Linked DNA regions of Homo sapiens. The protein of the gene in region 4 purifies or fractionates together with the protein of the main gene of each other region. This does not show direct contact. Each region holds a gene or a part of one and is shown on either strand. Other genes may lie near its edges.

Region 1 (4,681 bases), on a different chromosome or scaffold from region 4:
GAACAACATATGGAAATCAGTCTGATTAGGGGAAGAATACATTTCACTTCAGTAGACACAATTCTTTCCCTAAGCCATCTAAAAGGGGACAGGAAGAAAACCTAGGGGATTTAAGAATTTATAATTAAACTCTCACTTAGCAGGAAGCCTAGACATAAGATTACAAGATTAAATAACACAGAATTTTCCTGAGTCCTGAAAAATTAGCAGCAGATGGCAGACAAACTTCTGAATCCAAAGATTTATGATCACACTGGGCTTGCGAAAGTGGTCACAGCCTAATCCTGGTTTTGTCATCTTGTTACATTGAAAGATACTTATTTTATTGTCTCCCATGGCCAAGACACTTTTCGAGGATTAGACACTTATTTCAAATATCCCGGGATGCCATCAAAATATAACATTCACTAAGGTTCCACATAAAATTGTGCTTAATATACCAGGCAAAAAAACATGAGGCAGAAAGGCTGTGTATAAAAATTTTGATCCTCCATGTTAACAGTAGCCCAGGAGCCTGCCTCTATGGAAACTAAACACTGTTCTAAACCACATAATCACTGGTTTGTATGTCTAGTTGTGTTTCTAATTCTTACTTTTATTGTGACAGCAGCAACAGAAAATTTGCTATATACCACGATATAGATGGTAGAAGTCAGTCCTTCCAAGCTTCCTGGTTCATACCTTTAATTCATTTCAAGTAAGTGAGGTGGTTTAACATCATAACTTGTGTTGTAACAACTGTACTCTGAACGTTAACTTCTGCATTTAAGTAAATACCACCATCTGCTTAAGCAATAAGGAAATCTATCTCCACCCACAAGTGTGGTAACTCCTGTCATGCCTGTCTATCTGGTATGGAGGCTTCCCCTAGGAATCACTCACCTGCACAGATCTGAACGTAGTAATGAAAGGCAACATGATATGATAGCCTGGTCCACTGGGGCTAGTTAGTAAAGCTCCTCCCCTGCAAAAAGATGTTTCAATTTGACAAAATTATAAAAAGAAAAATTATCTTTCCAAATCTAAAATGCTATAATAAATACTCACTCTTGCTCATGCTGCTGACCTACTAAAGCCTCACTAATATGAATTGCTCATAATGAACAACTGCTTAAAATACCTCCACACCTAAAAAGGGAAAAAGATCAAATTAAACTGCCAATGTTACACCTTGTTTCATAAGCTCAACCAACCGTACCTCTGGGTCTCCAGCACTGCTCTAAGGTTCAAAGGATTCTCCTCGGTCTTTAACCTTCTGAGAAATATTTGTTTAAAAAATTCTAATGGCTTTCAGTAGAGGTACATTAATAGTACATAACAAGAGCCAAATCAAAATATATAATACATTTAATCACCAGGTTGAAAAAAAGACAATGCAAACTTTGAAGTAAAGAGAAAATTTCTGAGGCTTATAATTCTTTCGATCTATCTACAAGGTAATTAAAATACTGGGAACATAAAATTTCTATATAAAAACAAAAAATTAGCATGAAAAGATGAAGGGTGACAAGACTATACAAATAAATAGCATAAGGGCTTGTTAACCAAATCCTGGAATGTGAAAACTATGAAAGCAAGCCCTGGAAATTATAAAAAGGAGGCATTTGGGGAGCAAAGAAAACAAAGTCCTATTTTGCACCTTGTAAATTCATAGAACTTAGCTACCGGTCTTGAAAATATAAACACATTTGCAAGGTCATAATAACAAGGAAAGATGAACTGTTTGAGGTTCATTACTAATTCTTTGAGTCATTCCTTGAAATGTCCTTTCTCTGGTTTTACTGTCAGAAAGACAATGCTTTTAAACTGGAAGGAAATCTGGACTAATCTGTAATTTCTTATGTAGAGCTCCATCTGCTAAGATATACCATTAAAATTGCTCTTTTTCTAGGATTCAGGATGGATTTGAAAGTAGAAATATCAGTTTTGAGGGATAGTGGAAACAAGCAAAAAGTTGACGCTCTTTTTGAATACACCATTATCCCAATTTCTCCACAAACTGGCCTCTCTTACTAGTCTGTATCAAAAGGAACTTGTGGTAATTAGGCTGAAGGAAAAGCTAAGCGAGCTCAACAAGAGAGCAACAGCTCCCACACCACTCCTGTCCCCAACTTGAACAGCAACAGTAAGGAGGGAGGAGCATGGCCCATCAGTGTTGTGCTTATGTCCCTGGAGGTCCAGGGACATAAGCACCATCACAGTCATCATGGTGTTACAAGACGTAACCAGACACTGGAAGCTTTTAAATGAAAAAGTCTAAGAAACAACCATAAACATACAGCATCTACAGCGGCAAACTAAAGCCTGTACAGTTGAACGAACTATAATTTATCCATCTCTTCAGTTAGAGGTAGAGTGACTACTTCCTTTCTTCCTTCTTCATTTTTCTACAAATAATTGAGTTTGCTGTGTATAGGAATAACCGTAGGGAGACTTAATCTCTGCAACAAAACGAACATAGCACTAAAACTGTCCAACATCTGGAGGGTGCTCCGCAAAAGCCCGCTTCGACCCCCGTGCTCTCCCTAGAGATGGGACATGCGCCCCCGAACGTTGCAGAGGGAACAACTTCCCAGACTCCACTCTGGAGTACCCTTTTAATCTGCTCTAGAGCCCTAACTGACTGCACATGCCGCTCACCTGTAGTACACAGCCAGATGGCCCTCCTCAATCTTGTGGATGGAGGCGTAGAGCAGGACAGCCACCAACCCCACCACTGCAGCCACCAGAACCCGGGCTTGAGTCATATTCATTCTCGTTCCTCCTGGGAGCGGGAGAAAAGGACCCTCAGTCCCGTGAGTGACAGGTCCACCCCCTCCAGTTTCTACCCTCTCCCTCCGGAAACTTGGCGCTCTCTCGCAGGCTGAGCCGGGGAGTCCAGTACCCCTGTCCCCTCATTCTTCCCTTCTGGCTGAGCCCGCTGACCCCTTGCCAACTCCTCCGCCCCCGGAGGCCAGTGGGCCGCCCCTGCTCGGTGAGCTTCCTGAAACTCCCTCTCCCAAGGGTCGCTCCCGGGTGGAAGGCACTAACTGAGAAGAAGCCCAGCCGCAGGCTCGCGAGGAAAGCCGACCCCTCGGCCGCGCCTCACCGATCAGTGACGCATCGCCCCCGCCCGCACGTGCAGCCGACTCCCGCGCCGAGCCAACCGCCGCCAACAGCCGGCCCCGCCCACTCGCCCAGCACTGCGGCTGCGCGGGGACGCACACGGCGTAGCCCCGGCCCGCGGCTAGTGAGACGGGGAGCGCATGGGACAAAATTCTCCTAGCCGCGGGCCGCGCAGGCTCCTTTGGAGGCAAGTCGCTTTCTGTACACTGCTGGTTAACTGCTTCGGAAGAGGACAGCCCGCAGTCTGGAGTGAGCAGCGAAGCAGAGAAAAGGAGACGCCCTTTCGGACAAGGGACTGGTTGGTTTGTTCTTGTGCAGAGAACCCACTCGCTCACTCTCAAACGGTAGCTGTTCGGTTTATTTGTCCTTTTGCAGTGTATGCGGAGCCCCACTGTGTGGCACGCACTTGCTTCCGGCAGAGATCCTGCCCTTCAGGAGCAACTAAACTTGTTGCAAATAAAGTGCTGTGAAAGTTCAGAAGAGGAAGATATTAGATATAACGGCATCATTCTCTCGTTTTTTAAGTGTTCCTATTATGTGCCAGAATGCTGGTCCAGTGAGGGCTTTATGAAGGCCATCCAGACTACAGGAACAGAATTGCTAAGCACATGGGGCGGGAGGCGGAGGGAATCCTCCAGGGAGACCAAAGTAAGTACTTCAGTTTCCTTGAAGGCTTGTGTGATGGGAAGGAGTGCTATGGTAGGCGTCACTACATATTCTGTTCGTTTTAAATTAAAAAACCATGGGCACATATTGCCAAAAATAAAAAAGGGAAGGAAAAAGGTATAGTTGGGAGATAGATGAATACAAGAGAAATTAAGGACATTAATGGTTTAAGCCTTGAAAGGCTAGAGGTGGAACTATAACTGGACAAGGTGGACTAGGGTTGTAAAGTCCTCTAACCCAGCGGACGGGGTGGGGGTGTGTGTGGGTTGGGGATGAAACTGTTCCACTTCAGATCATCAGGCATTAGATTCTCACAGGGAGCCGGCAAACCTCACATGTGCAGTTCACAATAGGGTTCGCGTGCCTATGAGAATCTGATGCCACTCGCTAATCTGACAGCAGGCAGAGCTCAAGGCGATAATGCTCACTCGCCCGCCGCTCACCTCCTGCTATCCGGCTTGGTTCCTAACAGGCCACTGTCTGGTTCCGGTCCGCGGCCCAGGGCTTGGGGACCCCTGCCCTCTTGGGTAGGGAAGTATGGGAAAGCAGTGCTTTAGGGCCAATGAATCTATAAAACGGCTGAAAGTGGAGACAGACTGTTGGCAAGGAAGTCAAGTGGTTAGGAAACTGCAGGCCCAGGGTTACTTAGTAGTGGAAGTAAGAAGAGGTAAATAGAATCAATCCGTCTTCATTAAAGCAAGACTTCCCAGACCACTCTACCCACACCCTTCAATAAATACACTTACCTGTATCATTCATTTGATTTTTATTATCTAGGAATGTCTGGGACCTTATCTGTTCCAAATAAATGATATTTGCAGAGCTTAGCTATTTTAACTTCCAAAAAGCAAAAAGAATGGAAAATAACTTGCTCCATACCCTGTTTTCTGTAGACATTCTCTGAAGTTTT
Region 2 (4,131 bases), on a different chromosome or scaffold from region 4:
CAGGACCAATGCCACATGTTTGTGAGACCCAGCCTTAGCTGAGGCCTCCCTAGACAATGCCTACTGGGCCCCTAGTGATAAGCACTTTACACATCTTTCACTGACTTCTCACCTCATTCTATAAACATCTAAGCCCAGAACTTTGTTCACTTTCCGCCACTCCCTGATCTCACCATCGCCTACCCAGATGACCCCTCATCTGGCTTTCTTTGAGGAGATCCCAGCTATCCCACTTCGCATTTTTAAAAATAAATTTTTTTAACTGAATTCTCCTTTCCACATCTTCTACTGTCACTCTGCTTTCACCTTTCCCAACTCAAATGGAAAGCTGACTCTTCCCATTTCTAGAACTTACTCAAAACTTAAAAAGCATTTGGTAATGTTCCCTTCCCTTGCCCTGCAAAGATCCAGTCAGTTGCCAAGTCCCGATGGTTCTGCTTCCTCTGTCATCCCCTGCCTCCTGCCCTTTCTCACGTGTTACTTTATCAGTTCAGGTCCTTACTCCTGTCACCTGGCAGAATTCAACTGTATCCTTAACTATTCCTCTGTCTCTAGTCCCCTCTCCCCCTCCTCCATCAATGCATCCTTCATTCATGTTGCCAGTGTGACGTTGCCACTCCCTTATAACCCGTATTTCACATCAATCCTCTCTTCAAGAATCTCAATTCCCTCCTCATTGTCCAAAAGGGGAAAAAAAAGAAGGAATAAAAAACAATTCCAAACTCGTCTGCCAAGTACTTAAGACTCTCCACAACTTGAAGTCAGCTTACTTTTCAACTCTCACCTTCCAACTCTCTACTTCGCACACTACAAACAAATCAATTCCATCCACTTCTTTGTCTCCCTTACCTGTCTTCTCTGCCTTTGCTCATTTTGCCCTGTTAGCTCTACCTGGAATGTCCTTTATTCTTCTGCATACATTCAAAGCCTAGTTATCTCTTAGCATCTAAATTGATTAGGCATTCTCTGATACCCAAACCTCCACTGGCCCTAGCCCCAGCCTGAACTTCTCTACCCATCCGCTGACCCCTTAGGGCACTCTCTCATGGCACTCATTTTCTTTTGTAATTATTTGTTAAACAATTGTACATCTCAATATAGAATGCAGAGAAACAGTTCTGCCTCATCTTTCACTCCATCTATTTACTGCCCACTGCCTCTGAGATGGTTTCCATGAGAATCTTGCTTATTGAGATGTCAAAAGAGGAAGAGACTCATGCAAACACCCCATTAAATTCCAGGTAGTAAACACATCAATGAATACATGGGGAAATGCACAAAGCTAACTGATAAAGTCAAAGACACCTAAGAAATAAATATGGCACAGGTAACAAAAATCCTGAGTCAAGTAAAGGAGGGGGAAAAGGAGGTAAAAAGAACAGTGATGAAGCAGATCCCTCTCCATCCCCCAAAAGCAAGAAAGGATTACAGACCAAAAAAAAAAAAAAACCAGAAGTCCAGTCAGACTAAATGGCACAGACAATGCCACACCACCAGTCTCAACGGCAGGGTTACAAACAACTCGGGCCAGACCTTCAAAGCTCCTCCTGCAACAACTCAGAGCCACTCAATTCTCTCCATTTGCTAGCTGCTAGTTCTCCCTTTCTATTCCTAGAAGGTTTAATTCATTCAACAACTACTTTCAGAGTTTAATCAATAAATAAAGAGGTTACGCTAGGTCTTAATTGCTTTTGTCCTCCAAGTCCATGTGCCTTTCTTCCCCATGGGATGTGATTTATCCTCACAGCTTCCTGAGTCCTCCCAAGCAGTTGATGGCTCAGTTTTATTTGCCAATCTTCCAAACTCCACTGCCCACTGGACATCCTATGTGAATACCTTCCTCACAAATCTTTCTTCAAATCTAACATTAGTCTCATTTTGCTCAGCTGACCATTCCCTGGCTACTGTGGCAAAACATGACCTCTCTGTCCTTTATACTGCTCATTTAACATTTACAGCATCTCCTCTGTAACTTCATATGGCCTAAATCCTCTTGTCCTTACAGAATTAACATTTCCTAGTCCCCTTTAAATAATGTGTATTTTTATTAATATAATGGGTTCACTCACACACTGGTTCAGAATGTCTTGTTACCATTTACCAAAAAACTACTTGTGAAGGGCAGAGAAGGGATAAAGAGGAAGAAAGAATATACATAGGGAAAACAGAAAAAAAGGAAGTTACAAGAGAAGACAGGGGAGCCAGAGAGATGAAGGAAGCAACTAACATAAGTCATGATAACCTTGTGAGGTAAGAATTGAAATCTTTATGTTACAGAAATTGAAATGGAAGGCTGAGAAAGGTTAAGTCACTCGCTCAAATTTACCTATGAAGCTTTACATACATGGATGGCAATGGTTCCTTCTCCACTGAACAACACAAGGTTGATGACATAGGATAATATACTTAGAAACACCATCTGAATCATTATCAGGGTCATATTACAAAAGGTATTTAAAACTAACAAGAGTAGACCCTTGGTAATTATCTGAGAATTTCACCATGTCAACTCACTTTCAAAGTGCTTTATACGTATTTCAAAAAAATTGAAACACGATAAATCCTAATTTTTTTTTTTTTTTTGAGACAGCGTCTCCCTCTGTTGCCCAGGCTGGAGTGCAATGGCATGATCTTGGCTCACTGCAACCTCCACTTCCCAGGTTCAAGCAATTCTCCTGTCTCAGCCTCCCAAGTAGCTGGGATTACAGGCACCCGCTACCACACCCAGCTAATTTGTATTTTTAGTAGAGACGGGATTTCACCACATTGGCCAGGCTGGACTCATGCCACATTGGCCAGGCTGGACTCAAACTCCTGACCTCAGGTGATCCGCCCTCCTCGGCCTCCCAAAGTGCTGGGATTAAAGGCATAAGCCACCATGCCCAACCAAATCCTAAATTATTGATATTAAAATATAACAATCTAGTTAATGTACCTCAACTTATGGTTTGCTACAGTTTACAGTATCTCTTCCCAATCTCCACTAACAGTTATAAAACATCACACATTTCCTTGAGGCATAGATGTCTGTGTTAAAATGCTGCTTCAAAAAAGAAGGCAACACCACAAACTGAGTAGGCTTAGAAAATACTGCATACTCTAACAAAAAATAAAACTAATAAAAATAGCTAATATGTATTGAGTAATGACTATGCCAGACACCTCATTTGAATCTCACAACAATCTACGGGTAGATTTCTATTATCTCCATTTTACAGATGAAGAAATTGAGACATAGAAATTAAATACGCTGCCCAAAGACACACAGCTAAAAAGTAGAGCCCGGATTCCAATCCAAGCAATCTTAACTCTGAGCTCATGTTCCTACCCACCAAACTGCAATGAAAAAAGTGCACTACATTTAGAGGAAAATATTTAAAGGAAACAAACACTAAAATACAGAATTAGCTAAATCAAATGTACATCAACACAGAAACGTTTCCCAAGAGAAAGGGTACACGTGAATTATCCCTGCAGTCATGCATGGAATTACAAGTAAAATAATATATATCTGTAAAATATGTTCAAGATATTTCTATATTTTAAGATATTTTTATTTAAAAAAAAAAAAAGCAAAGAAAGTTAACTAAAGTAAAGATTACTAAAAAGAGCCTTCGAGGAAAAGTGCCCATTACAGTTTTGTACTGTTAAGTATAATGGACAAAGAATGGTACCTTAGCTCAAATAATGAAACGATTAGAGGAAGGCCGAGACAAAAATGTGAAGAACAGAGAAAAAGGAGCACAGGTTAACTACAGTGTCAAAAATTAAAACAAAGACTTGTGTTCAATAATACTTAACGGTAATAATGTTTGTAATAACAAAAAAAATGGAAACAGCCTAAAAGTCTATCAAGAGAGCAAAGGGGAAATAAATATGGTATAGACCTAAAATGTACTAACTTGTCACAGTAAAAATAAATGACCTAAATCTACATGAACCCACACTGATGAATTGAGTTGAAACTCAATTCATGAAACCACACTGCTAAGTGATTTTGAGTGGGGATAAAATAAACAGTATGCTGAACAAGAATACATGCAGTACCATCTATATAAAGTTTAAGAATACACAAAACAATACTATACACTGTCTAAGGAAACACACATGTGTAATAAAGCTGTACAGAAA
Region 3 (4,131 bases), about 15 Mb from region 4:
CTTTACAAGCTTTTAAGAAACTCTTATTATGCATATTTCATGAAGTGGTCAGGCCCAGAAAACAGAATTTTGAAAAAAAAATTTTCAGTTTCTGAAATCTCAGGCCCTTAGAAAGAACAGCATATATTCTTTATTTTATTTTAAGTTCTGGGATACATGTGCTGAACGTGAAGGTTTACTACATAGGTATACATGTGCCATGGTGGTTTGCTGCACCTATCAACCTGTCATCTAGGTTTTAGGCCCCGCATGCATTAGGTATTTGTCCTAAATATTCTTTAGGAAAAAGATATTTAGAGGCTAAAATCTTGTCTTGTATTTGTGACACTATGAAGTAGTAAAGTTTTTTGGCAACGAAACATGCAAACCTTTGGATTTCGCTACAGAAACTTTTTTAAACCACTGACAAAAACATAAGACTTACATCTACTAAAATTTAAAAGGAAAAAAGGAAAAAACACTATATACAACTTCTATAATCATTCTTGGTGTTCAATACCTTCTCTCACTCTCAGGAACATACCTTTTTCCATTCTGGGTCAGCGTTTTCTACAAGCAGAGGAAGTGTATCTTGAAATGCTTTCTGTATGCAGCCCTTTAGTTTTTCAAAATATTGCACAGACATCCATTTTGAAGAACAAGTCGACATGATTTCCAAAAGCTGCTTGTCCTCAGAATCACTGATGTGCTCCTTTTGGGTATCACTTAAAAGAACCCCAAGTACAGTCAGGATGTCTTCCTCATACTGATAGATTTCCAGTTGGATCCGCTTGGCTTCCTGCATAGTCCATTCTCTACGACTCTGGTCTAGACAAGTTTGTAATTCTGTCTCCTTCTGAAGAAGTAGTTCAGTTTTTTGTTTCATAAAGTCTTCTTTAGCTGCCGCAAGCACCTCATTAATTTTATTTCGGTGATCATCTAAAAATTGCCGGTAATCTTGCTCATTTTGTTCTTGGATTCTGTGGATTTCTTCTTGCTTTTCTTTGTTCCATTCACTCCGAGCCTTAGCTAACTCAGCCCTGATGACCACAGGGACTTCTTCGTTCTTTAACTCAAGTTCCTTCTGAAGAGAATGAATCTTCTCTTCCAATTCCTTTCCAGGAAGTATATTTTTCCTCATATTTTCAAGCTCACTCTTCCATTTCTCTTTAGCTTCAGAAACAGCAAATGATATCTAAAGAACATAACAACATGCATTTTGAAAGTCTTTATGATTCTCCTCCTTCGCAAAAAAATTAAGGTAACTATTTTGGTTAACCTCTGAAGCTAGGAAATGTAAAATCAAAATTAAAAGGAAACATGATTTTAGATAAGACATTATTCTAAAAACTATACTTACACTAAAATTGGTCAAAATATATACATAAATATGTTTATATGTATGTATAGACACATAAACACTCACACATATAATTATATAATTAGCCAAAACTAATGTGAGAAAAAATTTCATATTACTTTTCTTAATACAGATACAATCTCAAATTTTATCTGTGCCCCCAACAAATTAAGTATCTTTTACCTAAAGCAAAAGCGGACTCATAAGGATTTTTTACTATTACTTAGGAATATAGCACACACCTGCATAATTACTTGCTGATAAGTGTAACTGTATTTTAATGCACTTTTAGTGGCTAGAACAGTTCATTAAAGGACAATACCAAACAGAAAAAGTCATTTTTCATTAGTCTAATTTGTTTGTATGACAGAATAATAGAACTAGTGGATCACAGAAAAAAACAGGTAGTACATAACTAAAAAGTAATAGCGAAATCAAAAAACCTAAGCTCCAATCCTGACACCAATTTGCAGAGGAAGCCTAGCACAGATGCTTAACAGAACAGAATCTGGAGACAAACTGCTGGAATTAACTTACCAGCTGAAGAACTAAAGGCCCATTCCTCAACTTCTTTGAGCCTCAATTTCCTCATCTATAAAATGGGGATAATTACAATGCCAATTTGATAGCATCCTTTAGGATTAAATGACATAAGGACATAATCCATTTAAAGTACTTAGCCCAGAGCCTGGCAGATGATAAGGACTCAATAAATCTTATGTAGTTATTACTTTTGGATGCATGGCCTTGCAAAAGTCACTTAATCTCTTTGGCACTAACATCTTCACCTATATAAAGGAGTAGAGTAGATAATGGCCTTGAGTCCCTTTCACTTTTAATATTCCTGACTGAATTCCTAACTGAATTCAAAGAAGGCACAAGGACGCACTAGTGTCAAAAGACAGAACTGGGCATCTCCAAAGGCTTGGCCTAGACAATGGTGGTTACCATTGATCAATACTATATATATGGCTGGGATGATGGGATAGAGTACCTACTAAATAAATTTTCTGCTAAAGGAACCCACTATCTAAGGTGAGCTTTACAAAAGAATTCACTGCAAAATTCCTTTGCTACCAGCAGAATAATTCAGTAGTGATTTGAAACATGTTTAAATAGTGTTTTTAGAGAAAACAGGTCATGTTGCAATGGATGCCTGGAAGTCATTCCCAGGTGACTCGGATAGAGGTGATGGATTCCACAGAATTTTTATAACCTGCCCAACCTTACCAAAATGTGCATTTTCTCATGTGAAGTTTTACAAAGAGAATTTGACAGCATTCATCAACTCAGTGCTTCCCAAACTTTGCTGCACATTAGAATCACCTGAGCAGCTTTTAAAAATCCTGATGCCCAGGCCAGGGCCCATACAAAACAAAGTTTAAGGGTAGGGGCCAGGCAACAGTATTTTTTAAAGATCCTCAAGTTATTCCAATGTGCAGCAAAGTTTGAGAACCACTGAACCAACTTAACTACTTCTGAATTCTAGAAACTGTCTTCACACTGTCACAGATCTCAACTAATCACTCTAATCTTAAAATAACTCTATAGCCAATGCTATGGAACCGGCCCTTTCTGGACCTCTTTTGGTTTGGAGGAAGGATGCACAACATGTTGACATTATTTTTTGTGGCTGATATAATTATCTGGAATAGTGCTACTTACATCCAAGTGTAGTCCAAAGACCAGCTGGGAGCCTGTTAGAAATGCAAATTCCAGCCAGGTGCGGTGACTCCCACCTGTAATCCCAGCACTTTGGGAGGCCGAGGTGGGCAAGATCATCTGAGATCAGGAGTTCAAGACCAGCCTGGCCAATATGGTGAAACCTCATCTCTACTAAAAATACAAAAATTAGCCAGGCGAGGTAGCGGGCACCTATAATCCCAGCTACTTGGGAGGCAGAGGCAGGAGAATCGCTTGAACCCAGGAGGTAGAGGTTGCAGTGAGCTGAGATTGTGCCACTGCACTCCAGCCTGGGAAACACAGCAAGACTCCATCTCAAAAAAAAAAAAAAAAAAAGGCAAATTCCCAGGACACCCTCCAGACCTACTATATCATTATCTCTAGGAGGAAAGCCCAGATAGCTATGCTTTAACAAACCCTGCAAGTGATTCTCAGGCCTGCTGAAGTTTGAGAAGCAACAAAAACACTTTTCTCTCATTTCTATATGTCTGCTTTCACAAACATACAGCCTTCTATGTTCTTATGAAAAGATCTCTTGGCCTGTTTTATTTTCTACATTGTACTCAACTTTACTATTCTACTTGACTTCTGAGCTCTGAGACACATATCCTCACAATCATATTGTTTCTTCTCTCTCTCCCTCTTAAATTTCCTTTTAAAATATTTCAGACATACTAAAAAATATAGATTATAATTTATCATGTGTTATCCATTTTTCTTATTTTTATTATTCCCTTTACTTTTTACTACAAAAACAAAACATATTTCAACCTATTACTTTATCTTTGCTATTGGATATGTTGCCTCAAAACTGAGTTGTTATTATGGTACAGATCTGAAATCTTCAATTTTCTTTTAATTTTTCTACACTTTTATTTAAAAATGTTTAACTCCTTCATTAACCTAGAATTTATTGTGATACACGTTGGGTAAACTTAATTTTTCCAAAGTGTTACCTGGCTATCATAAGACTATTATGAAATAATTCCTCATTCCCTTGTTTTAAAACAATTTATTAAGCTTTTATTTATAGTAGGGCCTACCTCTGAAACCTGTATTGCACTGAATTAAAATGAATTCTATTTTTGTGACTCAATACAGTCTGAGTT
Region 4 (4,131 bases):
AATCCATGACATCCCATTTCTGAAGGCATTTCAGATCCTATTAGAAACTAGGCTAATTCCCCAGTCATTTTCTCTCTCAGCTTTGCTTTCTTTTGTGAAAGTAAATGCAAACGAATACAGCCTTTTTACTTAATTATTTTGAAATAACCTAATTTTCTCCTTTATTTTTACCTAACAGGTCTATATCGTCCCCCGAGCTGCCATCTTTCACAGTGATGACGCACTCAAGGAATCAGCAGCCATGCTAAATAACATGCGTGTCTACGGCACAGCTTTCTTGGTCCTTATGGTATTAGTGGTATTTATCGGCGTACGCTATGTGAACAAGTTTGCCTCACTTTTCCTGGCCTGTGTCATTGTGTCCATCTTGGCCATCTATGCTGGAGCCATCAAGTCTTCTTTTGCTCCTCCACACTTCCCGTACGTGTCTGTCTCTCTGCCTAGCCATCCTTATTGGGTAGTAATTGAAAATATCTGGTGGTGTGATAATTTTAAGTCAGAATTTCATAGAGTCTCTCTGAGATTTTCCCTCTCAGATAAGCCCAGTTAGACTTCCTTCCTCATCTAGGCAGGAAGCCTACCAGCAAACTATGTCCCGTTCATCCTCTTTCTTATGTCCTAAGCATAGAACTAGTAGCTGTAACCATCATTTAGGTTCAGATATTAGATTTTTTTCTCCCTGATAATTGTACATAATCTTTTTTTATTATACACATTTTGAACTATTCATAAAGGGCTTTGCAGACAGTGTAGTTATTGCCAGCAACCTTTATAAGGCCCACCTTGGCCTCCCGACGTGCTGGGATTACAGGCGTGAGCCACTGCGCCCAGCCTAGGTCAGGGCTTTTATCCATTACCCAAATAATGTACTTTGTACCCATTAAGTACTCTCTCATCATTCACCACCTCCTTCAACTCCCTAGTGCGAATACTTTAAAGTATGTTTTTTGAAGTAGTAATGGATTTGTGCACATCTGTGACTCACAGGCTCACTTTTCCCTTTGACTAGTGGCATAGGGACTAGCTGGCACTCAGTGTTATTTGTAGTCTTGTTACAGAATTATCTTGAAGAGTCATCTGGATTATCTGAGGATCAAACTCATCGGTTCTATGTTGATTTAACCAGATTACAGAAAAAAAGATTTTTCAAGACAAAAAGACAGTTCCAGTAGGTTTAATGACTTACCTCAAAGTTAATTAATGGCAGAGCAAGAAGATGAACTGTGATTTCCTGACTCCCCATTCAGTATTTCTTCTATGCTATGCTGCATGATGGCAGAAGTAGATTCCATCTTAAACTTTTAATCTGCTTATCTAGGGACTGTAATACAGCTGAAGGTCCTTTTTAGGGGCATAAAATTTCTAAAGGTGACATTCTGGTTATATCTCAATTTGGGAAATTCCATTTTGTCTCAGGTTCACCTTTGGGGCTTCTCCTCTTTTTTGATTAGTACACGGTCATAATGCATGGTATTTTCTTTGAGATATTCCAGCAAAACAAGACAAAAAATCTAGAATAATACATGAAACAAGACTGGGAAATGTTGAGAGTTGTTGAAGCTGAGTAATAGGTACATGGTTCATAATAATGTATTCAATCATTTTGCAAATTTTAGAAGTCCCTTTGTTGGACCTGAGAGGTATTTTAACTATGGATGTATTATTCCTTTGTTTATATTTGTGTCTCTGGGTTAAAGAAAAAAGTAAAACCAGCAGGTTAATATTTATGTTATCCTTACCGTCACTCCCACTGAGTCTAGGCTTAAATTCAAAAACAGTTTTCTCTTAGGCCATAGAGGGATCTGCCTTTTAATTCTGACCAAGCTGTTTTCCTTGCAACAGTAGCCAGAAGATTCAACCTTTAGCATAACATTTTCAAGGTGTTTGTTATGAATGTTAGGCTTTTCTAGGCCAAAAAAAGAGGAGTGCTTTTTACTTTATAAGAACAACAAAAGGACTTCAGTATTCTTTTAGACCTAACAATTTTAGCCAAAAATTTTGGAAGATGAGTCAGCATAATGTCTTCAGACAGTTCTTCAATTTGACTTCCTTCACTGCCACCACCTATGACCTTGGACAGATAACTGTATTTCCCTAACCTTCAATTAACTCCCTGTCTTCCTAAACTTCAGTGCCTCCATCCACAACATAGAAATTCTAATACATTGTGAGGTTGCTGTAAGTATTAAATTGGCAGAAAATGTAAGTCACCATTCACAGTGTTAAAATAAATTATAAATAAATAAACATTAGTTCCTTTCCCACCCATAACAGTAGAAGCTCTTAAAGATGGGGTTCTTGTTTCCTTTACTAACCTGTTTCCTTTTTTTTTAATGTACTTTTTTTCCTTACTTGATCTTTCTCCCTATTTCTTTTCACTTAGGGTCTGCATGCTGGGTAACCGCACCCTTTCATCAAGACACATTGACGTTTGCTCTAAGACCAAGGAAATTAACAACATGACAGTCCCATCAAAGTTATGGGGATTCTTCTGTAACTCGAGTCAATTTTTCAATGCCACCTGTGATGAATACTTTGTTCACAATAACGTCACTTCAATCCAGGGCATTCCTGGATTGGCTAGTGGTATAATTACAGGTAAGTTAGGGAGTTATTGGACAAGTTTTTTCCTATTTTCTGGGGAAAATAGGCCTTGTCATCTTAGATTCCTCTACTGTCCATAAAGATTCACTGCCATGGTGCTAATTCCCTTCTTAAGCACACCACACAGCTCTTAATTCACCATATTTCTGCTTTTCCATTAGTAAAGCTGTCCTTATTCAGTACTCCTTTACAGAGTGATGTCTGCTAAAATTCACCTCCATTTCAGAGCAGAGTTGAGCAAATCACTTTCTAACCTTACGGTAAAATATTCCGTGTATTCTTGTAAAATTGCCAATGTTCTTCCTGCACTGACAGAATAGACCTGTTTTAATGTCCACATCCACATGTATCTTCCTAACTTAGCTAAATTCCTGAAACATTCCTTAAGTGTCTTCTATTATAAATGTTTGGTCTATAAATTTCTTTGCACATAAGTAAGTTTACATTAAGGTGTTAGAAACAGCACTGATGACAAATAATAATGGGATTTGTGGGGCATTTAGTTTTAGTCTGTTTAACTTTTACTAATTTGCATTAGTAAAGTTAAACTATATTTGCATGTACCAAATCATTTTGTCAAATTATATTTAAATTAGATAAGAAAGAACATTATGTTTAGCTGGGCGCCGTGGGTTATGCCTGTAATCCTAGCACTTTGGGAGGCCTAGGTGGGAGGATCATGAGGTCAGGAGATCGAGACCATCCTGGCTAACATGGTGAAACCTCGTCTCTACTAAAAATATAAAAAATTAGCTGGGCGTGGTGGCAGGCGCCTGTAGTCCCAGCTACTCAGGATGCTGAGGCAGGAGAATGGCGTGAACCTGGGAGGCAGAGCTTGCAGTGAGCCAAGATTGTGCCACTGCACTCCAGCCTGGTGACAGAGTAAAACTCTGTCTCAAAAAACAAACAAACAAAAAAAAAACTATGTTTTTATTTATGTGTGTTTTATTGTGCAATGTGTGTGTATACATGTGCTCATGTAGAAGCAAACACACCTTTAGAAACTGTATAAATGAGGAGCCTGATTTTGAATGTTTGGGTAGAAAATTAATTATCTTTTTTTTTTCATACTGCTGCTGCTTAAATTCCCATTTTTCCCACTGCAGAGAATCTTTGGAGTAATTACCTACCCAAGGGAGAGATCATCGAAAAGCCTTCAGCCAAATCTTCTGATGTCTTAGGCAGCTTAAACCATGAATATGTTCTTGTTGACATCACCACCTCCTTCACGCTTCTGGTGGGAATCTTCTTTCCCTCTGTTACAGGTAAACACATAGGCTGTTGTATATTTTAGAAGCTGTCAGACCCACGGAGTGATTTTTCTCAGGAGGCAGAATTCTCAGGGTTCCTAGATTTGCTTCTACTCTTTGCTATCAGTATCAATATCAAAGTGTCCAAGAAGTTAACTTGGTTTTTTCCCCCTTATCTCTAAAGGTATCATGGCTGGATCAAACAGATCTGGAGATCTGAAAGATGCTCAGAAGTCTATTCCGATTGGTACTATCCTTGCCATCCTGACCACCTCCT
Region 5 (4,131 bases), on a different chromosome or scaffold from region 4:
AGTGGCTGTGGAGGAGCAAAGAAGTGGATGGATTCAGAAGGTCTTAGACCCTTTTTGTTATTAGGATGACAGCATTATTTGTTGTTGTTGTTGTTTTTCTTAAAGCAGCATTTACCCATATCCTCCAGTTATTCCTGGAGGCAGGGAGATGGACTGGCTAACTTTATGTGTAGCCTTTGATTCTGTGTTTCTAGAGAAATGTCTGTGGTTTTGTACCCAAGTGAATCTGGCTGCATTCCCTTTGGCTGTATAGATGTACCCCTTAGGAAACAAGGACAGCTTTTCACTGTTACAGTTCTGCCACCTTGTTCTAACTGTCATATGCAAGCTATCTCAATATAATATACCAATTTTTTGTGTATATAACATAAGCACACTATGTACTTTGCTCAAAATGTTCTGTTACTGAGTACATATAATCTGTATACACATCAGCCGTACATAGGAGCAAATTGTATATTTCTTCTGTAGTCATAGAGGGAGTAGATATTAGGATTGTTGTTTTCTGCTCCTGAAATTTTTGTTCTGAGTTTTAAAGACATTTAGCCATCTGTTTATGACTTTAAAGTGAGTGTTCAAAGTGGAGGCTCTGAATGTATGTATCATTACAGATATATTGAAAGGGTATTGTCAATAATAAATGGCTACTATACATCTTTTTCGGCTGTTTTCTAACTTTTTAAAATGTGTAATGTAAGCAGGTAGTATTTTTAAGGAAGTGGAAATATATCTAATGTTAACTATGGATTTTTACCTGGATTATGTCTTTTAGGAAGAGACTTTAGGGTGCAGAGTTGCTTCAATTGCATTTAAAATAATCAATTTTTCCTTAAAGCAGCTTTTACCTGTATCCTTAATTTATAGATGATATGTATTTATTTCATATTATATTATAAAATCATTTTAATAAAAATGAAATGTTGGATTCATCGTTGAACTTCTTTTTAGAAATATAAATTAAGTTGAAATTAGTAGCTTTCAAAGTTTTATCATATATATTTTTTCCAGCAGATATAGTAGATGCTTACAAATATTTTAATTCACCTAACTCTTCTCTAAGAGAATGAATTGTATCTTCTCCCACCCACAGGAGACTGACTGGTTCCAGAGATTTCTTTTCACAAGACTTCAGTTTTCTGGCTGCAGTATAAGAATTAAAAGGGCTTTAGAGTTGGAAACATATATGCATATTAAGTTATTTAGCAGTTTAAACATATATACTTTTATTCAATATGAACATGAGAGTAGCAGTTGGAACAAAGACTCCATTTGTCAATTTTCATTCCTTTTATTTGTAGTTGAAATCCTGTTGGGAGTATGAGTAAATTTAAATATAAATAAAATGCAACATTCAATGTATTTCTACTCAGGAAACCAGTTACAATGTTATTAAGTTACAATTGCATAAACTAACCTTATAGGCCTACAGCAAATGCTAATACATTTTGACCTTGGTTTGTACTTGAGGGTGTTTTTTGGTAATTGCTGTCACCCTGACAGCCAACAAGGGGGACTCGCAAAGGAAAAGCGTATGAGAGCGATTTGCAGGGGCTCAGACTGCACATTGCGCTGTGGTGTTTTGATGTGTTGCCTACCTGTTTTTATTACTACCCACCAGCTCGCTATCAAGTAGTCCTTGACCTGGCTATCATTGATAGGTACACTAGTCTTGAGTAATTGGTACTTTAACTTATCAACTACTTTTAACCACTGTGTAAAAATGAAAGCAAGAATAGTACGTTAATAATTGCCAGGCATTCCCTTCTGTACTGTACATACAAATAGAATTTTTACACATGTGCCTGTATGTATATATAGGTTGAGTATCCCTAAATCAGAATATGTGAAATCTCAAATGTTCCAAATTCTGAAACTTTTTGAATGTGAGGTGACATTCAAAGGAAATGTTCACGGGTACATTTCAGATTTCTGGTTTTCGAATGAGGGGTACTTAACTAGTTTAGTATATAATGCAAGTATTTTAAAATGAGAAAAAATCCAAAATCTAAAACATTTCTGGTCGCAAGCATTTCCGGATGCTCAATCTGTACAGTATGCCTAATTAATTCATCTTCTTATAAAATTAACTTCTATATATAATGAGTTAAAGTTAAGAAAAATATTATTTACTTGTACAATCCATTGCCTCTGTACTTATGAAAATTGTCCAGAAAATCAGTCTTTGCTGACTAAGCTTTTTTGCATATGGACATACTCGGGCATGTTGGCTTTATATATCTTATCTTTATATACCTCAGCTAAAAGCTAACACCCTTTATATTTAATTTGGTATGCTAAGCTTTTGGACCGGCAGGCTTGTGGCCCATTACCAGCGATGGTATTCTCCAAGGTGTAGGGGATAGCAGAGGGCAGGTCTTCCTTTTTTTTCCTGAGAGAGCACCGTAGACATGTTTGGAATAGTTCATCACCACTGTAAAGCTCACAAAGAAGAGACATGCTCAAAAAATCACAATTTATAAGCAATAATGTCTTACATAAAATAAAGGTGATTTTTTTTTCCCTTTCAGATTTTGGGGTAAGTGCGTTCCTAGCAACAGGGGGTGATGTTACCCGAAATAAAGTAAGAAAAACATTCGTTGGCACCCCATGTTGGATGGCTCCTGAAGTCATGGAACAGGTAAAAAAACAAAAAAAGTGACTTTTTGATGGACATAGTACAATCGTACAGATCATTAATATGCTAACATTTCATTTGTATCTAGCATTTTAGTAGAATGCATAATGTAACTAAGATTTAATTCTCAATTGCTAGCTAATTAGCAAACTAACGTGAAAGTTATACATCAACAGCTGTGGATTTCTGACATGACATGGACTTGATGATGTGTAACATGCCTGCTGTATGATTGTGTTTTTTTCCTGCTTTCTTTCTTAGGTGAGAGGCTATGACTTCAAGGCTGACATGTGGAGTTTTGGAATAACTGCCATTGAATTAGCAACAGGAGCAGCGCCTTATCACAAATATCCTCCCATGAAAGTAATTACAATTGGAAATACTACATCGGGGTTGAAATGTGATTGGACGGAATCTGTTTTCTAATTCTCTTCAACATCTTCATTCTTCTCTTAGACCCGAGGAGAATTAATGGAGGAACGCAGCCAAGTTGAACATTGTCTGATTTTCTCAGTGGACAGAATAGGACAAAAGTAGCATAATTCCCAGCTTTGAAGCTTGCTTTATAGTCTCAGCACAGAGTTAAGAAAATAATGTTATCAGATTGGTTGATGGAGGTTGATAGCTATGACAAATGCTGGTCATTACTCTTTTGATAGCAGAACAACGCCAGGTTCCCAGAGAATATCTCAAAATAGATTATAGTGATGTCATCTCTGCAAATGGGTTTCCCAGATTTTCAGAGCTTTTTTTTTTCTTTCTTTTTAAGTGGACTACAACATTTTTACCCCTGCTCTTATAGTGTAATGTTGGCAACTGATCTGATATAAGTGAGCCACAGTGTTTTTAGGATGCTATTTTCACGTTTCTGCTCTTCTTTTAACTGGTTTATACCTCATTATTTCTCTTAGTTCTGAGATAGTGGTATCAGGGCTTATTTACCCAACTGGATTTTGTTTTGAGGCTGAAATAGTTTAGTGAAATTATAATGCTATTTTACATAGAGTATGGTCTATGATTGTTTCATGGTTACTGGAAAAATTTGGGAGGATTTATTTTAAAAACCCAAGAATAAAAAGTGAGTTTTACTGATTAAAAGAAGTAGTATACTCATATTGTAGAAAGTTTGGATGTGCAACTCAGACTAAAGAAGAAAAACAATCATCCGTAATCTCATCAACCAGACAATCTCTACTAAGGTTTCAGTGTAATTCATTTTATTGTTTTTATATATATATATATAAATTTTTTTTAACATAGTTAGGATTTTAGTGTATTTGTGTGTGTGTGGGTACATATACCGGATTTTGCTAGCAGAAAATTTAAAATTGAAGCGTAAACAATTGAAGTGACCTCTTGGAGAAAAAGCACTGAAGTAATGCTGAAGGATTTTTTCTTTTATTCAGTTTTTCTTTCTTCATTTTCTTTCTTTTGCCTCTTCTCAGTGTTTCCCACCTGAATTCAAAGTCGCACTTGCTTGTCCCAGCCTGACGTCC
Region 6 (4,131 bases), on a different chromosome or scaffold from region 4:
CCAGGACTCCAGGCTGCCCTCTGCAGCTTCCCTATAAGGTGTGCCCTCACACACCTTCCTGAAAGGCGCCTTCCTCAGCCCTTAACGGGCCTGGCCCGAGTCCCCTCTGAAGAGACTTGCCGGTCCTCGGGCCACACGGCCTGCAGCGGGTTCCTAAATCCACCCACTCAGCTTCCAAGAAGCCCCTCTGGCCTCAGGCTCCTTGTCTCTCCCCTGCGCACCCTGAGACAGCTGCTGTGACAAGCAGCAGGGACAGGAACACAGGGGTTTGCGTCCCTCCCTGCACCCAGGCCCTCTGCATAGTCGGGGGGCTAGTGGGGATCCCCCACAGCAGCCCTGACCTCTATGGCCACTAGCAGTGGATGGGGCCCACGCGCTGCCTACCACTCCAGCGCACGTGGCCACGCTGCTGCACCCACGCCCGCCTGGCCAAGAGCCAGCCCCGCCGCCCCGGCAACCACCTCCACGGCAGCAGAGCTTCACTATTTTTAGTGGAAAGCAAGAGGCTATTTAAAGACTCCGCTTCCCACGACAGCCATCCTCGGCGGGGCTGGGAGCCCAAGTTACCCTTCCTCTTGTCCAGGGCCCAGCCCGTGGAGGTAGACACCAGGGTGAGGACACAGCTGCGGCCACACCTCCCTCTGCTGGGAGGGCTCTCCCTGTCCCTGCCCAGTGGCTCAGCCCCCAGGCTTCCTTCCACCCTCCCCAGCCCTGCCTGGCACACAGGCAGCACTCAAACATGTGCCTGGCCTCCAATGCAACGCCATTCAGCCAGGACCACAGGCCCCTAAGGCAGGGTCGGCCCAACAAGATGGGCACAGGCAGGTGAGCAGCTCCCCCAGGGAGAGGCAGGGCCTGTGGAGCTCTCCACGAGCCTTCTGGGGAAGGCTGGCTACATAGTCTGTGCAAAATGAAACTGCGGGCCCCTTATTTAAAAATTACAGAGAATTTCAAGATGTTGACAGCGGAGCATTAAACCAAACGCAGGCCCTCATGATGCCCGTGGGGCTGGCCTGCTCTGGGAAGGGATGCGGCGAGTGCCATTGGTCAACCCTCGGGCTGCAAGGAGGCAGCCTCTGTCCTCCCAGTGCTGACCTCAGGATGGAAGCCTCGGGGCCCCTCTGCACCTGCGCTGGCTGCCAGCCTGCCTCCTGGCCCTAACGGGGGCCTTGGGGGTGTGTTCGCCCATCAGGCAGGCGGGGCCTGAACCCCATGCTGACTTGAGCTCCCTGCCAGCCCAAGCAGGCGGTACTGCTGTGTCCTCCCTGAGCCTGGACTCCCCCACACCAGGCGGGCTGGACAGCAGCCTTGCAGCCGTGGGGCTACTTTGGGAAATCTGCAGTGTGACCGGGTCCCTCCTGCCCAGTGCGGGTACCTGCCACATGCCTGTGAGGGCCCATATGGGCCCTAATCCAGGGGTTGGGGAGGCTTGTTGTGGGTTCTCTGACTGGGACCTGAGCTGCTGCCCACTCCTCCAGTCCTCCAGAGTGAGGCAACTGTCCTCTCTGTAGTCCCCAAGGTCAGATCCTGCCTAACAGGGACCAGCTCACAGGCCAACCCACCAGGGCCCAGAGCTCTCAGGGCTCAGTGGGAGAGAAGATGAGGAGCACACGCAGGCACCTACAGACACGTGTGAAGACATGGACACACACACAAACATGCTCCAGGGCACATGTGCATGGGTATGTGTGCACACACACAAATATACAGGCATGTACACACATAAACACACAGACAACCTGTTCTGGTGCACAGAAGGCACACATGCACACATGCAATCATGTCTGCATACAAAACACATATACATGCATGAACACTTGCATGCAGACATGCACACGTGCACACACTGGTGCACATGCATGAACGCAGACACGCCTGCACATCACTCACCCACCAAGACCTATGTGTGAACACGCGTGAACACAGGCATGCATAGACACATGCCTCCTCACACTGCACCCAGCCCTATCCAGCCTCGGCTCGGCTGCCCCTCACTCTGGGCCTCAGACACGGCCCTCCCACTCTCTGGGCTTCCCTTTGCCCCTCTGTGGATAGGGCAAGTGTGAGGACACACAAGCACTCTCAGGGTGCGCAAGAACACGGGAGGACACACAAGGACATGCAAGGATGCATGAGGACACATGGGGACAGGGGAGGCCATGTGTGGATGCTCAGGGACACTCAAAGACACGCATTCCCACAGGCAGGGCCTAGCAGGCAGTAGTCTGGGTCCAGGCTCGGGGAGGCTCCACTCCCACCCAGACCTGATGGTGCACACCAGGCTCGCCTGCCGGAGGGCCAGGCAAAGACAGGCTCTGGGCCTGGGCTGGAGGTGGAGTGTCTGGCCCGCCATGTCCCTCTGAGCCCCTCCTGGCTGGCTCCAGCCAAGCTACGGGTGGAGGGCAGGTCCAGGGGGCCCAGCCCCGAGGTTCCAATCCCTCCTCCAGGGCCACAGGCAGGGACATGCACCACCACCATAGGCCCCACCCGGGCTGAGGCCCCAAGTCCCGCCTGGGCTGGCAGGGAGATACCGCCGAGCAAGAGGGGTGGCTTAGGGGCAGAATGTCCGCCACAGCTAAATGTGGAATGGAAAATTTTAACTCAGACGTTTTCATTTAAATCAGGTTCTTCATTAGCACTGTTTGTGTATGAGTGGCACTCGCCCGTGGGGCGCTCGGGACCGGCGGGGCAGAAGCTGCTGCGCCCTTGTCAGGCCAGGCCTTTGGGCCTCGAAGTACCTGCACCTACCTGTCCAATCCCTATAGACACCTGGACAGATGGGGAAACTGAGGCTCGGGGGCCAGGAATACCCCAGGCCACATGCGGTGGGTCCCAGCAGGGGGGCTCACACTGAGTTTTCACTCCCAGGTTCCCCAGACTCATGAGGTCCCAGTCAGCAGTTCAGTCCCTCCTGGCCCACCAAGGCTAGTCTGGCCCAGGGCCTGTTCTGACTGCTGTCCTGAGCTGGGCCTCCAGGCAAGGAGAGGGCTCAGGACGATCTAGGGACCAGCCACACCATCCCAGATGCCCCAGACAGAGATAAGCCAGCCTGGCTCAGCCCCAGGCACTGGCAGCCTGCCAGGCAGCCCCAGCCCTCGGACATTCACAGGGTCCCTGTCATTCTGCAATGTGGCTCTGGAGTGAAGTCAGGGCAGGGTCGGGAGCCTGGCCTAGGGGTCTTCGAACCCTCTGCCAGCAGCTGACCCAGCCTAGCATTATACCATGGTATAAAGGGCTTCTGAAGCCCAGGGGGATACAAAACCCCCAGAAACATAGGAAGGGGCCGGGAGCAGTGATCACACATGTAATCCCAGCACTTTGGGAGGCTAAGGCTGGCAGATCACCTGAGCTCAGGAGAATAGCCTGGGCAACATAGCGAGACCCCATCTCTACTAAAAAAAAACAAAAAAACAAAAAATAAATAAATTAGCCAGGTGTGAGGGTGCCCACCTGTCATCCCAGGTACTCAGGAGGCTGAGGTGGGATGATCACTTGCGCCCAGGAGGTCGAGACTGCAGTGAGCCGAGGTAGCACCACTGCACTCTGGCCTGGGTGACAGAGTGAGACCCTGTCTCAAACAAACAAACAACAACAAAATCCTAGGAAGGCTTCCTGAAGGAAGAGGGCCTCTGAGAAACTGCCCTGCTGTATGTGCCCCATCCTGAGAGGGTGCTCTTCACAACTGGGCATCCTTCCATGCCCAGACCCTCCTAGAGAGATGTGTGAATGTCCTGCTGGTCCCAAGACCCTTGGCGATCTGGCTGAGGGAGGGGTCCCTGGTTCTCAGGCCTCCAGCTCCCCACACCACATGACACCCAGAACTCCTGCCCACCTGGTGCATGGGTGAAGCCACCCCACCGGCAGCAACTCATGTTTACTGAGTGCAGAGAGGGGGCTGGGGCCACTCACTGTCTGGTAACGTCCGAGGAGCAAACAGTGAAGTCGGGAACCCTGTATAGGCACTAAGGGCAGGGATTCGGGGCACAAGAGCAACCTGCTCCCCTTCCTGTGTGCCTGGACCAGATACAGGGCAGGAGGTGGGGCAACGGGTAGACAAGTGGCCTGCCCCAAGAAGGGGGCCGCCTGGACCCCTGCCTACCCAGAATCAGCACAGCTGCTATGGGTGGCATC
Region 7 (4,131 bases), on a different chromosome or scaffold from region 4:
TGCCATCCCTTTCCCCTTCCTGCTGCAGAATTCTTTCTTTGGGGGAAATCCATTCTGTGTGTACTGTGTAGACGTAATCCAGGCGAGGCCAGAGAACTCAGCTGTGTAGCAACAGTAACTGATTCAGGGCTGAGCAGAAGAACCAAGCCCTTCCTCTTCTTTTGAGAGGGAGTCTCACTCTGTCGCCCAGGCTGGAGTGCAGTGGCACAATCTGAGCTCACCGCAATCTCTGCTTCCTGGGTTCAAGCGATTCTCCTGCCTCAGCCTCCCAGGTAGCTGGGATTACAAGCCCTTGCCACCACGCCCGGCTAATTTTTGTATTTTTTAGTAAACACGGGGTTTCACGATGTTGGCCAGGCTGGTCTCGAACTCCTGGCCTCAGGTGATCCGCCCACCTTGGCCTCTCAAACTGTTGGGATTACAGGCATGAGCCACTGCGCCAGGCCGAACAAAGCCATTCCTAAGAACTTTTTGTTAAGCTAGTGCACATGGGTTGTTACCATATCCACCACTTGGAGAAAGACCGTCTGAAAGAAATCAAGGACAGCAAGGCTTGAATATACTGATTACGTGGTGTGAATCCTGGGAGTCAGCCAGTCTACCTGAAGCAAACTCATGTCAAGCTATCCTATTTTCCACATCCCCTTATGCTGCCTGGGGGAGGCCTGACTTGTTTTTCTGTCACCCGCAACCACAAGAGTTAAAGGATTTTTCAGAGAATGTCTAAAGTTATTTTCCCCCAAAATACCCTGAATCTGTTACCTCTTGAGGCCAGAACTCTCTTCCTCCTTGCTGGTCTTCCAGATAGTCACGGATGATGTTTGTTTTCTGCAAAAACAGGCCCATAGAGTTGGCACGTTCTGTATCTTCACCAACTAAGGGGTCTTCAAACTCTGAGGCTGAGAAAAGACGGGAAAGGCCAATTCCGACCAGCCCAGCAACATAGTGGCAGTACTGTAAGAGACGATTTTTAAAGCACTTTAATAATGGAATTTTTACTGAAATGGACACACTAGAGATCATTAGCTACAAAAAAGCAGGTTCAAAAGAGAATGGGTAAGAATGCATTTTGATTTTAAAATACAAATATACATACCAGGATTTAAAAAACATTCAAGAAGGATGTGCTCAAAACATTTCATAGCAGTCTCTGGCTGACGGGAATTTGATGTTTTTATTTTTCACTTGTATTTTCCAAATTTCTACAATACACATGTACTGCTACTATAATAAAAGGCTACTGAAAAAAACTAGTAAACATTTTTTTATTTTTATTTTTTATTTTTTTTTTGAGATGGAGTCTCATATATTTGCCCACGTTAGACTCAAACTACTGGACCCAAGCAATCTTTCTGCCTCAGCTTCCCGAACAGCTGGGATTGTAGGCAAATACCACCGTGTCTAGCTTTACAATAACTTTTTTTTTTTTTTTTTTTTTGAGATCAAGTCTCACTTTGTCCCCTGGGCTGGAGTGCACTGGCACAATCTCAACTCACTGCAACCTCTGCCTCTTGGGTTCAAGTGATTCTCCTGCCTCAGCTTCCTGAGTAGCTGGAATTAAAGCACCCACCACCACATCCAGCTAATTTTTTATTTTTAGTAGAGACGGGGTTTCACCATGTTGGCCACGCTGGTCTCGAACTCCTGACCTCAACTGATCTGCCAGCCTTGGCCTCCCAAAGTGCTGGGATTACCAGCCCAAGACACCGTGCCCGCCCTAGCTTTACAATAAACTTTTTGATACATAAAACTATGAGAGAAGGCAACGATGAAAGATGGAATATTCTGGTAACAGGAACTAGGACAATACCAACTATGGTTTAATCTTTTTTTGACCAATCTGATAACATGTCAAGATCCGCAGGCCCTCAAAATCATCATTATATGAAAGAACAAATAACTATTTTATGTTCTTGACACGGTTTTAAGAACTCTGCACATTCAGCCGGGCACGATGGCTCATGCCTGTAATCCCAGCACTTTGGGAAGCTGAGACGGGCGGATCACGAGATCAGGAGATCAAGACCATCCTGGCTAAGACGGTGAAACCCCGTCTCTACTAAAAATACAAAAAAATTAGCTGGCCTGGTGGCGGGTGCCTGTAGTCCCAGCTACTCAGAAGGCTAAGGCAGGAGAATGGCGTGAACCCAGGAGGTGGAGCTTGCAGGGAGCCGAGATCGCGCCACTGCACTCCAGCCTGGGCGACAGAGTGAGACTCCGTCTCAAAACAACAACAACAGAAAAAAAGAACTCTGCACATTCAATCCTCACAAACATTGTATCAGGTACATAGCAGTATGATCTCCATTTCAGATGAGGAAACTGAGGCACAAAGAAGTCGATTTAACTTGCCCAACATTGCCCATGTGAGAAAAAAAAAAAATTAGCCAGGCACAGTGACACAGGCCAGTGGTCCCAGTTACTCAGGGGGCTGAAGTAGGAGGCTCGCTTGAACCCAGGAAGGTTCAAGGGGCTGCCGTGTCTGTGGCAGGGGCTAAGAGTTCAAAACTAGGTAGTATGACTTAAGTGTCAGGCTTTAACAACTTTGCTAAAACTTCCCCTTTTCTTTTTAGTTTTTCTTTTAGAGACAACGTAACTTCCCCTCTCTCAACAGAGATTTCAGTAAATGCAACTCTTAATTGCCAAATACTTTTTTTTTCCGCGACAGCAATTTGTCAAAAGCTGTCCTCCTCTGAAAAGGGTATCCTAAGACAACTTAATGCAATATCCACATACAATAATTGTCTATTAGTTAACTTAAGAAGCAAAAGTAAAGAAGGTAAGCTCTGGAGTGTCATTAGGAAGGGTAAAAGTTAGGAAATGACCGAAGTTCACGCCTGTAATCCCGGAATTTTGGGAGGCTGTGGAGAGGGGACTGCTTGAGCCCAAGAGTTTTAGACCAGCCTGGCCAACAAAGCAAGACCTCATCTCTGTAAAAAATTTTAAAAGGCTGAGTGTAGTGGCTCACACCTGGGAGGCTAAGGCAGGTGAATCGCTTGAGCCCAGGAGCTCAAGACCAGCCTAGGCAACACGATGAAACCCTGTCTCTACCAAAAAATTACAAAAATTAGCCTGGTGTAGTGGTGTGGACCTATAGTCCCAGCTAATGGGGAGGCTGAGGTGAGAGGACTGCTTGAGCACAGGAGGTGAAGGCTGCAGTGAGCCTTGATCATGCCACTACACTCCAGCCTGGGTGACAGAGCAATACCCTGTCTCAAAAATAATAAAAATTAAAATAAATTAGCCAGGCATGGTGGCAACGTGCCTGTGGTCCCAGTTACTCAGGAGGCTGAGGGCAAGGAAGATTGCTTGAGCCCAGAAGGTCAAGGCTGCCTTGTCTGTGCCACTGCATTCCAGTCTGGGTGACAGAGTGAGACCCTGTCTCAAAAAAAAAAAGTCGTCTCTGACTGAAAGTAATACAAAGCCAGAGACTAATCAGGGGGAAGAATGCACAGGTGAAGAGAAAGCACTTGAAATTTGTTCTGGGACAAAAGTAACATGAAAAGAGTGAAATCTTGCTGAAATTAGGTAGACAGAAATTGGCTTTGGACAGCTATACAAAATCTTCAAAAGAATTACTAGAAATTTAAAAAAAAATTAGTATATCTATAGTACTATCCAAAAATATATTTGAAGATAATAGTTCTTTTGGTAGAAATACTCCTAAAATGGAGACTTATATAATTCATCTTCCCCCAAAGTAGAAGAAAAAAAATAACTCCTTGAAATAATTGGCTGGTCATGCCTGTAATCCCAACATTTGAGAGGCCAGAGTGGGAGGACTGTTTGATGCCAGGAGTTTGAGACTAGCCTGGGCAACATGGCAAAACCCTCTCTCTACAAAAAATGTACAAAAATGAGCCTGGTATGGTGTCATGCACTGTAGTTACAGCTACTCGGTAGGCTGAGGTGGGAGGATCACCTGAGCCCAGGAGGTTGAGGCTGCGGGGAGCCGTGATCACACCACTACACACCAGCCTGGATAACAGCAAGACCCTGTCTCAAAAAAAATTTTTTTTAATTCAATTTTATCTGATCAAAACTTCTATTCAACAACCTAAAATTAAGTTTCCTGAATAAATCTGCACAACAGAAAATGAGTTACTATCATAACCAGTGCTGGTTCTTGGC

The links.
Region 1: the proteins of SLC12A6 (region 4) and ERLIN1 purify together in Homo sapiens (affinity purification with mass spectrometry, with the first as the bait; one large-scale study listed by BioGRID). This does not show direct contact.
Region 2: the proteins of SLC12A6 (region 4) and ACSL3 purify together in Homo sapiens (affinity purification with mass spectrometry; 2 studies listed by BioGRID and IntAct, with this or other methods). This does not show direct contact.
Region 3: the proteins of SLC12A6 (region 4) and CEP152 purify together in Homo sapiens (affinity purification with mass spectrometry; one large-scale study listed by BioGRID and IntAct). This does not show direct contact.
Region 5: the proteins of SLC12A6 (region 4) and STK39 purify together in Homo sapiens (affinity purification with mass spectrometry; 3 studies listed by BioGRID and IntAct, with this or other methods). This does not show direct contact.
Region 6: the proteins of SLC12A6 (region 4) and ZDHHC8 fractionate together in Homo sapiens (co-fractionation; one large-scale study listed by BioGRID). This does not show direct contact.
Region 7: the proteins of SLC12A6 (region 4) and FDFT1 purify together in Homo sapiens (affinity purification with mass spectrometry; 2 studies listed by BioGRID and IntAct, with this or other methods). This does not show direct contact.

Annotation. Positions count from the first base shown.
Region 1 is NC_000010.11:100,182,874-100,187,554, forward strand, and holds the start of ERLIN1 (erlin-1), read right to left. Parts: upstream 3,157-4,681; 5' UTR 2,754-3,156; coding exon 2,641-2,753; intron 965-2,640; coding exon 883-964; intron 1-882. UniProt on the Homo sapiens protein: Component of the ERLIN1/ERLIN2 complex which mediates the endoplasmic reticulum-associated degradation (ERAD) of inositol 1,4,5-trisphosphate receptors (IP3Rs).
Region 2 is NC_000002.12:222,867,422-222,871,552, reverse strand, and holds part of ACSL3 (fatty acid CoA ligase Acsl3), read right to left. Parts: intron 1-4,131. UniProt on the Homo sapiens protein: Acyl-CoA synthetases (ACSL) activates long-chain fatty acids for both synthesis of cellular lipids, and degradation via beta-oxidation.
Region 3 is NC_000015.10:48,755,380-48,759,510, forward strand, and holds part of CEP152 (centrosomal protein of 152 kDa), read right to left. Parts: intron 1,175-4,131; coding exon 524-1,174; intron 1-523. UniProt on the Homo sapiens protein: Necessary for centrosome duplication; the function also seems to involve CEP63, CDK5RAP2 and WDR62 through a stepwise assembled complex at the centrosome that recruits CDK2 required for centriole duplication.
Region 4 is NC_000015.10:34,250,637-34,254,767, reverse strand, and holds part of SLC12A6 (solute carrier family 12 member 6), read left to right. Parts: intron 1-178; coding exon 179-420; intron 421-2,383; coding exon 2,384-2,598; intron 2,599-3,710; coding exon 3,711-3,869; intron 3,870-4,038; coding exon 4,039-4,131.
Region 5 is NC_000002.12:168,139,156-168,143,286, reverse strand, and holds part of STK39 (STE20/SPS1-related proline-alanine-rich protein kinase), read left to right. Parts: intron 1-2,528; coding exon 2,529-2,638; intron 2,639-2,896; coding exon 2,897-2,998; intron 2,999-4,131. UniProt on the Homo sapiens protein: Effector serine/threonine-protein kinase component of the WNK-SPAK/OSR1 kinase cascade, which is involved in various processes, such as ion transport, response to hypertonic stress and blood pressure.
Region 6 is NC_000022.11:20,134,394-20,138,524, reverse strand, and holds part of ZDHHC8 (palmitoyltransferase ZDHHC8), read right to left. Parts: intron 1-4,131. UniProt on the Homo sapiens protein: Palmitoyltransferase that catalyzes the addition of palmitate onto various protein substrates and therefore functions in several unrelated biological processes.
Region 7 is NC_000008.11:11,822,847-11,826,977, reverse strand, and holds part of FDFT1 (squalene synthase), read right to left. Parts: intron 955-4,131; coding exon 763-954; intron 1-762. UniProt on the Homo sapiens protein: Catalyzes the condensation of 2 farnesyl pyrophosphate (FPP) moieties to form squalene. Proceeds in two distinct steps.